Homo sapiens: one gene and its partners. The protein of the gene in region 2 purifies or fractionates together with the protein of the main gene of each other region. This does not show direct contact. Each region holds a gene or a part of one and is shown on either strand. Other genes may lie near its edges. The genes, in order: ETFB, SUGCT and ARF4.

The links.
Region 1: the proteins of SUGCT (region 2) and ETFB purify together in Homo sapiens (co-immunoprecipitation; one large-scale study listed by IntAct). This does not show direct contact.
Region 3: the proteins of SUGCT (region 2) and ARF4 purify together in Homo sapiens (co-immunoprecipitation; one large-scale study listed by IntAct). This does not show direct contact.

Annotation. Positions count from the first base shown.
Region 1 is NC_000019.10:51,347,029-51,349,546, forward strand, and holds part of ETFB (electron transfer flavoprotein subunit beta), read right to left. Parts: intron 31-2,518; coding exon 1-30. UniProt on the Homo sapiens protein: Heterodimeric electron transfer flavoprotein that accepts electrons from several mitochondrial dehydrogenases, including acyl-CoA dehydrogenases, glutaryl-CoA and sarcosine dehydrogenase.
Region 2 is NC_000007.14:40,141,452-40,145,109, forward strand, and holds part of SUGCT (succinyl-CoA:glutarate CoA-transferase), read left to right. Parts: intron 1-278; exon of another isoform or gene 279-379; coding exon of another isoform or gene 380-422; intron 423-3,658. UniProt on the Homo sapiens protein: Coenzyme A (CoA) transferase that reversibly catalyzes the transfer of a CoA moiety from a dicarboxyl-CoA to a dicarboxylate in a metabolite recycling process.
Region 3 is NC_000003.12:57,587,329-57,590,986, forward strand, and holds part of ARF4 (ADP-ribosylation factor 4), read right to left. Parts: intron 1-3,658.

The DNA of each region.
Region 1 (2,518 bases), on a different chromosome or scaffold from region 2:
CTCCAGCGTCACCTGGGAGGCGAATGTGCCCTGGGGAGGGACAGTGTAGGAGGAGAGTGGGTGAGGCTAATTCAGGTCCGACCCGAGCAGTCTGCTTATGCCACTACTGAGTACACGCATGGACTAGTGAATGAATGAGGGAGCGAACAATGCAGGGTCCCATGAGGTTTAGAATCGAGCTTGTACACCTGGGAGAGGGTCTTTTTCCTTTCCCTGAGAGCCACGGTGTATGTCCTGATGTCCCATGTCCTGATGCTGCCAGTGAGGCCTCCCTGCCTTCCTGACAGGGAACATGTACTGAGTGCTGAGCCCTGTGCTAAGCAACTGATGTATCAAGTCATCGAATCCTCGCAGGAACTTTATGAGGTAAATGTTATTATCCCCACTTTACAGATGAGAGAAACTGAGGCAGCAAGATGCTGAGTTACACGCCCACTGCCACCCACAGCTGGTAAATCCAAAAGCTGACAATCTGGCTCCCAACGGCCCCCCGTGAGGCCCCTCCGCTGGGCAGACAACAGAACTGTGTGTGTCCACACCAGTCCTTAAACCACCTTCTGGGACCCCGTCCTCTAGCCAGGTCCCTTTGCCTCTCAGTCCTGAATCAACATTTCCTCCCCTGGTAACTGATGCCACCTACACTCCTCTTTGTCTAACGACCTTTGTCCCTGTCCACTTATTAACTGGACACATTTTTCAGGTCTTAGTGTGAACATCACCTCCCTTCATTCACAACCTCCTCCTAGTGCCCTTATGAACCTGCCCCTGGAGACACACTGTGAACACGACCAGTGAAGCACCAGCTTGGGTGGGCTCATATTCTGCCAGGGAAGACAACCAGTCACCAGGGAAAAACACACACACACAAATGAGATCATTTCCAATCAGAAGGAATAAGAAGAAAATAAGACACATGATATGAGAGCAAGAAGGGCGCACGTTGGAGAAGCTAGTCAGACAGTGGTAAATGCTTTGAAGATAAAACAGGATAATGGTTTTGAATGTGTTGTCCCATCCAGTAGCCACTGGCTGCGTGTGGCTGTCCAGCCAGTGCAGCTGAGGAATGAATTTTTACATTTTATTTAAATTTAAATACTGATAATTTGGCCAGGCGCAGTGGTTCATGCCTGTAATCCCAGCACTTTGAGGGGCCAAGGCGGGTGGATCACTTGAGGTCAGGAGTTCAAGACCAGCCTGGCCAACATGGCGAAACCCTGTCTCTACTAAAAATACAAAAATTATCCAGGTATGGTGATGCACGCTTGTAATCCGATCTACTCGGGAGGCTGAGGCAGGAGAATCGCTTAAATTCGGGAGGCGGAGGCTGCAGTGAGCCAAGATCGCGCCACTGCACTCCAGTCTGGGGACAGAACAAGACTCCACCTCAAAAAAATAAAAATAAATAAATACTGAGAATTCAAGACACATTATCATGATTGTGGTGATGATTTCATGGATGTAACACATATCAAAACTTAAATTTTGGAGGGCTGAGGTGAGCAGCTTGCTTGAGCCCAGGAGTTAAAGACCAGCTTGGGCAACATAGTGAGACCCCCATCTCTATCTAAATAAAAGAGTTTAAGAAAAGCAAACTTAACAAATTGTGCAACTTAGATATGTGCGGTTTATTGTAGGTAAATAACTCAACGAAGCTGTTTAAAAAAAAAACAAAAACAAACAAACAAACAAACAAAAAAACACAGATACCCAATGCAGTTACTGGAAATGCAGTTACTAGAAAACTTTTAAGTTTGTTTTGAACAACTTGGGTGTGTAAATCTATTTCAACTGTCATCTTTAGGAATGTGTTTCTCATAGAAATTTAGCACCTGAATTGAGATGTGCTGTAAATATAAAATACATGCTGAATTTTGAAGATTTAGTACAAAGAAAATCCAAAAAACGTAAAATACAGATGGTCCCTGACTTATGATGGTTTGAATTAAGATTTTTCAGTTTTCCGATGATGTGACAGTGATAAACATTCAGTAGAAACCATACTGCCAGTGTCCGTACAACCATTCCGTTTTTTTAGTTCCAGTACAGTATTTGATAAATTACATGGGATATTTAGCACTTTATTATAAAATGTGCTTTATGTTAGATTATTTTACCCCACTGTAGGCTAACGTTAAGTGTTGTGACATGTTTAAGGTAGGCTGGGCTCAGCTATGATATTTGGTAGATTAAGAATATTAAATGCATTCTCTCAGTTATAATATTTTCAATTTATGATGGATTTATCAGGACGTAACCCCATTGCTTGTAGAGCATATGTATCTTAATATTTTTATGTTGATTACATGTTAAAATAATATTTTAGATATAATGGGGTGAAATAAAATATAATTTTGTCTGTTTCTTTTTACTTTTTTATGTAGCTGTGAAAAATTTTAAATTTGTCTATGTGCCTTGCTTCTTTTTTTTTTTTTCTTTTGAGACAGGGTTTCCCTCTTTCACCTAGGCTGGAGTACAGTGGTATGATCACAGCTCACTGCAGTCTTGACCTCCTGAACTC
Region 2 (3,658 bases):
GTGAAACCCCGTCTCTAGTAAAAATACAAAAAAATAGTCAGGCGTGGTGGTGGGCACCTGTAATCCCAGCTACTTGGGAGGCTGAGGCAGGAGAATTGCTTGAACCCAGGAGTGGGAGGCTGCAGTGAGCTGAGATTGTGCCATTGCACTCTAGCCTGGGCGACAGACAGTGCAAGACTCCATCTCAAAAAAAAAAAAAAAAAGTGTGCTTCTTATCACATTTACAGGTAATATATGAAGATTGAGGGAGAGGGAATTCTTTTTTTTTTTTTTTGAGACAGGGTCTGACTCCAGTAGCCCATGTTATAAATAAAGGTTTGGTGCCACAAAAGAAATAGCACTGGAATATAAAATTTTCTTTTTAATTCTCAGCAAGGCAATGTACTTCTATAGAAGAATGCGCCCTTACAGATGGAACAATGGTGAGCACACACCTGGACAAGGGAGGGGAAGGGGTTCTTATCCCTGATGCACGTGGCCCCGCTGCTGTGTCATTCCCCTATTGGCTAGGTTTAGACCACACAGGCTAAACTAATTCCAATTGGCTAATTTAAAGAGAGTGACGGGGTGAGTGGTTTGGCAGGAAAAATGGTTATGGCAGAGCAGGAAATCTGAATGAGTCAGGGTGGAGAATGAGCAGGTAATCGGAATGACTTAGGGTGGAATAGGTAACTGGAATTAGTCATGGTGGAGCAGGTAATCAGAATGAGTCAAGGTGAAGCAGGTAATCGGAATGAGTCAGGGTGGAGCAGGTAATTGGAATGAGTCAGGGTAGAGCAGATAATTGAAAAAGGTTGCTTTACCAGGAAGTTAAGTTTAAAACTAGAAAGCAAAGAATTGAACCTACTGACAAACTGATTCTTTGAAGAGAAATTTAGAACTCATATCTAACATTCTGTCCTCTTGCATTTCCTTACGGCTCTTTTTCTTCAAACTTCTTTAACATGTCTTGGCTTAGTTGTTCTACAGATTTTCCAAAAGAAGAAGCTTCTTTACATAAGGCAGAGAATAGTTAAGGGAGGTTTTAGTAAGTGCTGTTTTTATGAGCCTCTGCACCAACCCATGGATGCATGGTGTGACACAGCACCTGACAAGAGTAAGTACACCCATTATGGCTGCGAGGGAAGTAAGAACTGAGGCTATTATTCTTTTCCACTTACTGAACCACTTTTCTAGCCATCCTGTAAAGGAGTCATTTACCCCTGAGTTGTTGGCTAACTCATTGGACACAGCACTCAGACCTTGCAATGCCTTTGTTATACTTCCATCAGGGACAGTGTTGTTTGGGATGAAGGTACAACATTTGTGTTTTAATCATGATACAAACTCCTCCTCTTTCTGCTAATATCATGTCTAAGGCTATCCTATTTTCCCAAGCCATGTGGCTTGTAGCCCCTAATTACTCAGCTATTCCTTTAACAGCATCTCTAGTATAGTTAATAAATTGCTGTTGGTTGTAATAGATGTAGTTTATCCAATCTACATTTTTATTAATTGTCACCCACCAAAATATTGACTCAAATTCTGTAGCTATTTGATTTTGGGGTTTAAATTGATCTGGTATTCCCTGTGGGACTCCAATTGCATTTAAATAGATGTGAGAGTCGAAAGACCCATAAGAGGCTTCCCTTGCTTTATGACGTCTGGTTTTTCCTTCCTCTGCTTGATGAAAGGCCAGAGTAAAAGGGATAGCCGATTGGACTAGAGCATAAATACTGCTCTAATTATTTGGCAGAGTGTCCAGTAAAGGTCCTCCATAATCCCACCATACATCCGCTTAGGGATGAATAAGGGCAGACTGATAGGTCAGCTCTTGGAAGTGCCACACTTCACTGCATCCTGTTAAGTCTCCAAGGAATGCCAAATTTTTCCCTTGGTCGTTGGAGACATGAGGTAAAATTGATTTTGGAAAATGGAGGCTGGATGGCCCTTGGGGGCTGACCCGCAGCATGCTGGACTTTGGGATATAGCAGAGAGAGAGTGTGGCACAACTTGTTACTCTAGGCTGTAGAATCCTGGAAAAGAGCTACCATGCAGCCCATGCCTGGTTGACTGGATGACCACCCTAGTGGAAAGGGGACAGTCTGGGCCTCTGGCCTGCGGTGCGCACAAGCATAACAATTGCTTTTGTTTAACGTGCAGACGGAATATTTGATCCATTCCAACCAGGCATTTGCATCTTGGTATCTTGTCTTAATTGCCGAAGTTTGTTTTAAGTCTTTAACTTGTATGATAGCTATCTTGGTCTTGTCGTTAGATGGAGGAGTGGCAATTGTTCAGTTGTGAGAGGTTTTGGAAGAAGGCTTAGAGGAAGGTGCAGGCACTGGGGGATCAAATAAACACATTTCAAAGAATCCAATAGGGTCTGTCCCTGAAACCTCAGCCCCCATACCATAAAACTGGCTTAAAGAAGGGAACTGGCTTAGAAAAGGGGAAGAAGTTTGAGGGTTCGAGATAATAACCTGTATTGGAATGCACTGGTTTAGCTGACCCCCAGTTGGGGGTTGGCTGTCCCTCTAGTAAAATGAATGTATGGTTTTAGGAAATTACAAAAACTGGTTGGGGCAGTCCATCCTTGCTCTTTAGTGGTCCACAGAATGTTGGACAAACTACGGCATAAAAGCTCTACACTGGGGGGCAAGACTCCTGGTTGACACTGGGGTCTTTACCAAAATCTCCCTGGATTAAGTGGTCTCAATTCACTAATGTCTAGTCTCAGGAGAGTCAGGAGGGAGAGAGGTACTTTTCTGAAGTAGAGAGCTGTCTTTGACTTGGCAAGTCCCCACAGGGTATAACAAGGCAAGCATCAAATGCAATAGTTTGAAGAGAAATTGACTTGGTTATGTTAATAACTAGATGGTCAGCAATAGAGCGAGGAAAGAAGAAAGAGTAATAGAATAGATGAAAGAGAGTGAAATTTTTCTTTGCTTTAGTTTGGTAGGGTTTTCCCCTGGGACTATGGCCCATGACTCTGGAGGGGGCGGCGCTTTCTTGACTCAGGTGTGATGAGTCTATTCCCTTTCCCACTGTAAGAACAGCAGTCTTGGTGGTTAGCAGCACAAGGTAGGGTCCTTCCCAGGGTGGCTGGAGTTTTCCTTCTTTCCACCCTTTGATGAGACCATGATCTTCAGGCTGTTGCTGGTTTACCGGAAATTCTAGGGGTGGTACCTGTGCTAAAAGACTTTTAGTTTTGAGGGAAAGGAAAGTGGAAGATAAACCAAGTATACAATTTCTAAGAAATTGATCTTTTGTTTTAAATGTGGGGACATCAGCAGTGGACTTTATAGTCCTTGGTGTCTTCTTACTGAGAAATTTCCTTTAGCACCTATTTTTATTAGTTTTTAGACCAAAGAAAGCCAAATACCATTTTATATTTGACAATGCTTCCTGTATGATTTTTATACCAGAAAAGCTAAATTTCACCTTTATATTAGTGTGCTATTAGTGATAAACTTAATTTTAATAAAACTTGTAGACACATTTATCCAATTTTTAATGTCTGACCATAAGGTAAGATTTTTATAGACTCTTTTTAACCTTGTATAATTTTTGTTAAAGAGCAGGTTAGTGCTTTAAGAAAAACCTGTTGTGCTTTTATTTTAATGTCCAGTTTACAGAAAAGCTGGATGATACCCCTTTAACTTTAGCCAATATGTTT
Region 3 (3,658 bases), on a different chromosome or scaffold from region 2:
AAAAAAAAAAAAAAGTAAATCCAAAAATACTGACAAAGAAAAGAATTGAAGAAATCCAAGACAAATCATGACTATATCATTTTAAATTATACAAAAGCATGTAGGTAATCCAAGTTTTCTTTTAATAGGTTTTATATGTGCTTGTATGAATACTGTATGAATAATTATTTTCCTTGCTCCTCTACTGATAGGAATTTTTTTTTACCCAAAAATCATGTATTACTTTTATGAAAAGAGAAAAAAAATTGTCCAAGCAGATTTTTTTTAATTAAAATGTTGGGCTGTTTACATTTCCTGATGTATCTTTTTGAAGACGACTGCTTGAGGGCTTTAAATATATAATATTTTACATACTCATTTTACTTTTTTAAAAAGGGAAGTGTTTACAAAATCATGCAACCATTTCTAGGTCACCCCAGAATTCAAGGGGAAAAAATAATGCGCCCATAATGACTTTTAAGTATCCACAAATTATTTTCTAAATATAAATTACAAGACAACAGTTTAATGGCTCACAGCAACACAGAATGTATCTTATGCAGTTGTATCAAAAATAACAATGCTGTATAAATGCAAATTAAGAGTTTTTGAAAAAGGTATTTATAAGCTTTAATGCACGAATTAAACATATACAGTCATCACTTAAAACTTATAGTTCTTTACTCAAAAACATATTGGTCCAACAATTTTGAGCCACTTCAGTCATTTCTTATGTATTTCCTTAATGTTGCAATATTTGGCAATGAAATTTCTCCACAAAATGAAAACTATTACCAATTTTCAACTAGCCAAGATAAGACTAATCTGTATAGCCCAGCAATGGTCTCCCTCCCCTCCGTGTCCAGAAACAAGCAACTGTATTTAAAGATGTACTGGAATACTTGTTCTCCTTAACTAGACCTGCACTTTGACCAAAGTGTTACTATAGCAGGAAAACTACCTCAGAAATCTTTGCTGGCCAGGCAGTCACTCACACCTGTAATCCTAGCACTTTGGGAGGCTGAGGCAGGCGGATCGCTTGAGCCCAGGAGTTTGAAACCAGCCTGGTCAACATAGCGAGATCCATCTTTAAAGAAGAAAAAGTAAATTAGCTGGGAAGCTGTGCATGGTGGCTCACACCTGTAATCCCAGCATGTTGGGAGGCTGAGGCAGGTGGATGACCTGAGCTCAGGAGTTTGTGACCAGCCTGGACAACATGGCAAAACCCTGTCACTACAAAAAATACAAAAATTAGCCAGGTGTGAGTGGGGCACAGTGGCTCACACCTGTAATCCCAGCACTTTGGGAAGCCAAGGCGGGTGGATCACCTGAAGTCAGGAGTCAGAGACCAGCCTGACCAACATGGAGAAAGCCCGTCTCTACTCACACCTGTAATCCCAGCATGTTGGGAGGCTGAGGCAGGTGGATGACCTGAGCTCAGGAGTTTGTGACCAGCCTGGACAACATGGCAAAACCCTGTCACTACAAAAAATACAAAAATTAGCCAGGTGTGAGTGAGGCACAGTGGCTCACACCTGTAATCCCAGCACTTTGGGAAGCCAAGGCAGGTGGATCACCTGAAGTCAGGAATTAGAGACCAGCCTGACCAACATGGAGAAAGCCCGTCTCTACTAAAAATACAAAATTAGCTGGGTGTAGTGGCACATGCCTGTAATCCCAGCTACTCGGGAGGCTGAGGCAGGAGAATTGCTTGAACCTGAGAGGCGGAGGTCGCAGTGAGCTGAGATCGCGCCATTACACTCCAACCTGGGCAACAGGAGCAAAACTCCGTCTCAAAAAAAAAAAAAAATTAGCCGGTTGTGATGGCACATGCCTGTAGTCCCAGCTACTGGGTGAGGCTGAGATGGGAGGATCACTTGACCCCAGGAGGTCAAGGCTGCAGTGAGCTGTGATCGCACCACTGTGCTTCAGCCTGGGCAACAGAATTGAGACCCTGTCTCAAAACAAACAAAAATTAGGCAGGGTGGTGCCCATCTATATTCCCAGCTACGTGGGAGGCTGAGGCAGGAGGATCCCTTGAGCCCAGGGGATCAAGGCTGCAGCGAGCCATGATCACACCACTGCAATTCAGCGTAAGCAACAGAGCAAGATCCTGTCTCAAACAAACAAGGCCGGGCCCCGTGGCTCACACCTGTAATCCCAGCACTTTGGGAGGCTGAAGTGGGTGGATCACGAGGTCAGCAGTTCGCGACCAGCCTGGCCAACGTGGTGAAACCCAGTCTCTACTAAAAATACAAAAATTAGCTAGGCGTGGTGGCTGGCGCCTGTAAACCCAGCTACTTGGGAGGCTGAGGCAGGAGAATCGCTTGAACCCGGGAGGTGGAGGTTACAGTGAGCCCATACCGCGCCACGGCACTCCAGCCTGGGCAACAAAGCGAGACTCCGTCTCAAAAAAACAAACAAAAAACCCAAAAAAACAAACCTTTGCCCATAATTATGGCAGCAAGAAATACTTACATTTTAAATTTAAAAAGTTAGATCCAGCCGGGCACGGTGGCTCACACCTGAAATCCCAGCACTTTAGGAGGCCGAGGAGGGTGGATCATGAGGCCAGGAGTTTGAAACCAGCCTGGCCAACATGGTGAAACCCCATCTCTACTAAAAATACAAAAATTAGCCAGGCATGGTGGCGGGCGCCTGTAATCCCAGCTACTCGGGAGGCTGAGGCAGGAGAATTGCTTGAACCCGGGAGGTGGAGGCGCAGTGAGTCGAGATCATGCCACTGCACTCCAGCCTGGGCAACAGACCAAGACTCTGTCTCAATAAATAAATAAATAAATAAATAAATAAATAAATAAATAAATAAAACAAAAAACAAAAAAAGAACATCTATAAAAAACCTACAGCTAGTATCATAATTAGTGATGAAAAATTGAGGCCGGGTGCAGTGGCTCACACCTGTAATCCCAGCACTTTGGGAGGCTGAGGTGGATGGATCATGAGGTCAGGAGTTTGAGACCAGCCTGGCCAAGATGGTGAAACCCTGTCTCTACTAAAAAATACAAAAATTAGCCGGGCGCAGTGGCGGGTGCCTGTAATCCCAGCTACTTGGGAGGCTGAGGCAGGAGAATCGCTTGAACCCGGGAGGCGGAGTCTGTAGTGAGCCGAGATTGCGCCACTGCACTCTAGCCTAGGCAACAAAGCAAGACTCCGTCTCAAAAAAAGAAAAAAGTTAGATCCAATGATCTCAACTTTGAGGGAGAAAAAAATATTGCAGAAAGGAGTAAGACTGGAAAGACAAAAGAGTATTTTCAGATGGATAAAAAGATTTTTCATGTTTTCCTTTATCTTTCAAATTATCTACAAGTTTGAAATATACCTTCATAATTATAAGTGTGTGTGTGTACATATATATACATTTGTTTTTTGAGACAGGGTCTCGATCTGTCACCCAGCCTGGAGTGCAGTGGTGCAAACATGGCTCACTGTAGCCTCAAACTCCTGGGCTCCAGCAATCCTCCCACCTCAGCCTCCCTAGTAGCTGGGTCTACAGGGGCACGCCACCATGCCCAGCTAATTTTTAAAATTTTTTTGTAGAGATGAGGTCTTGCCATGGTATGGTGCCCAGGCTGCGTAATAGTTTAAAATAATAATTTAAAATTGAATATTTACTGCATTCTAAGCATAGTAGGTGATTCTATACATTTTTGGACTTTAA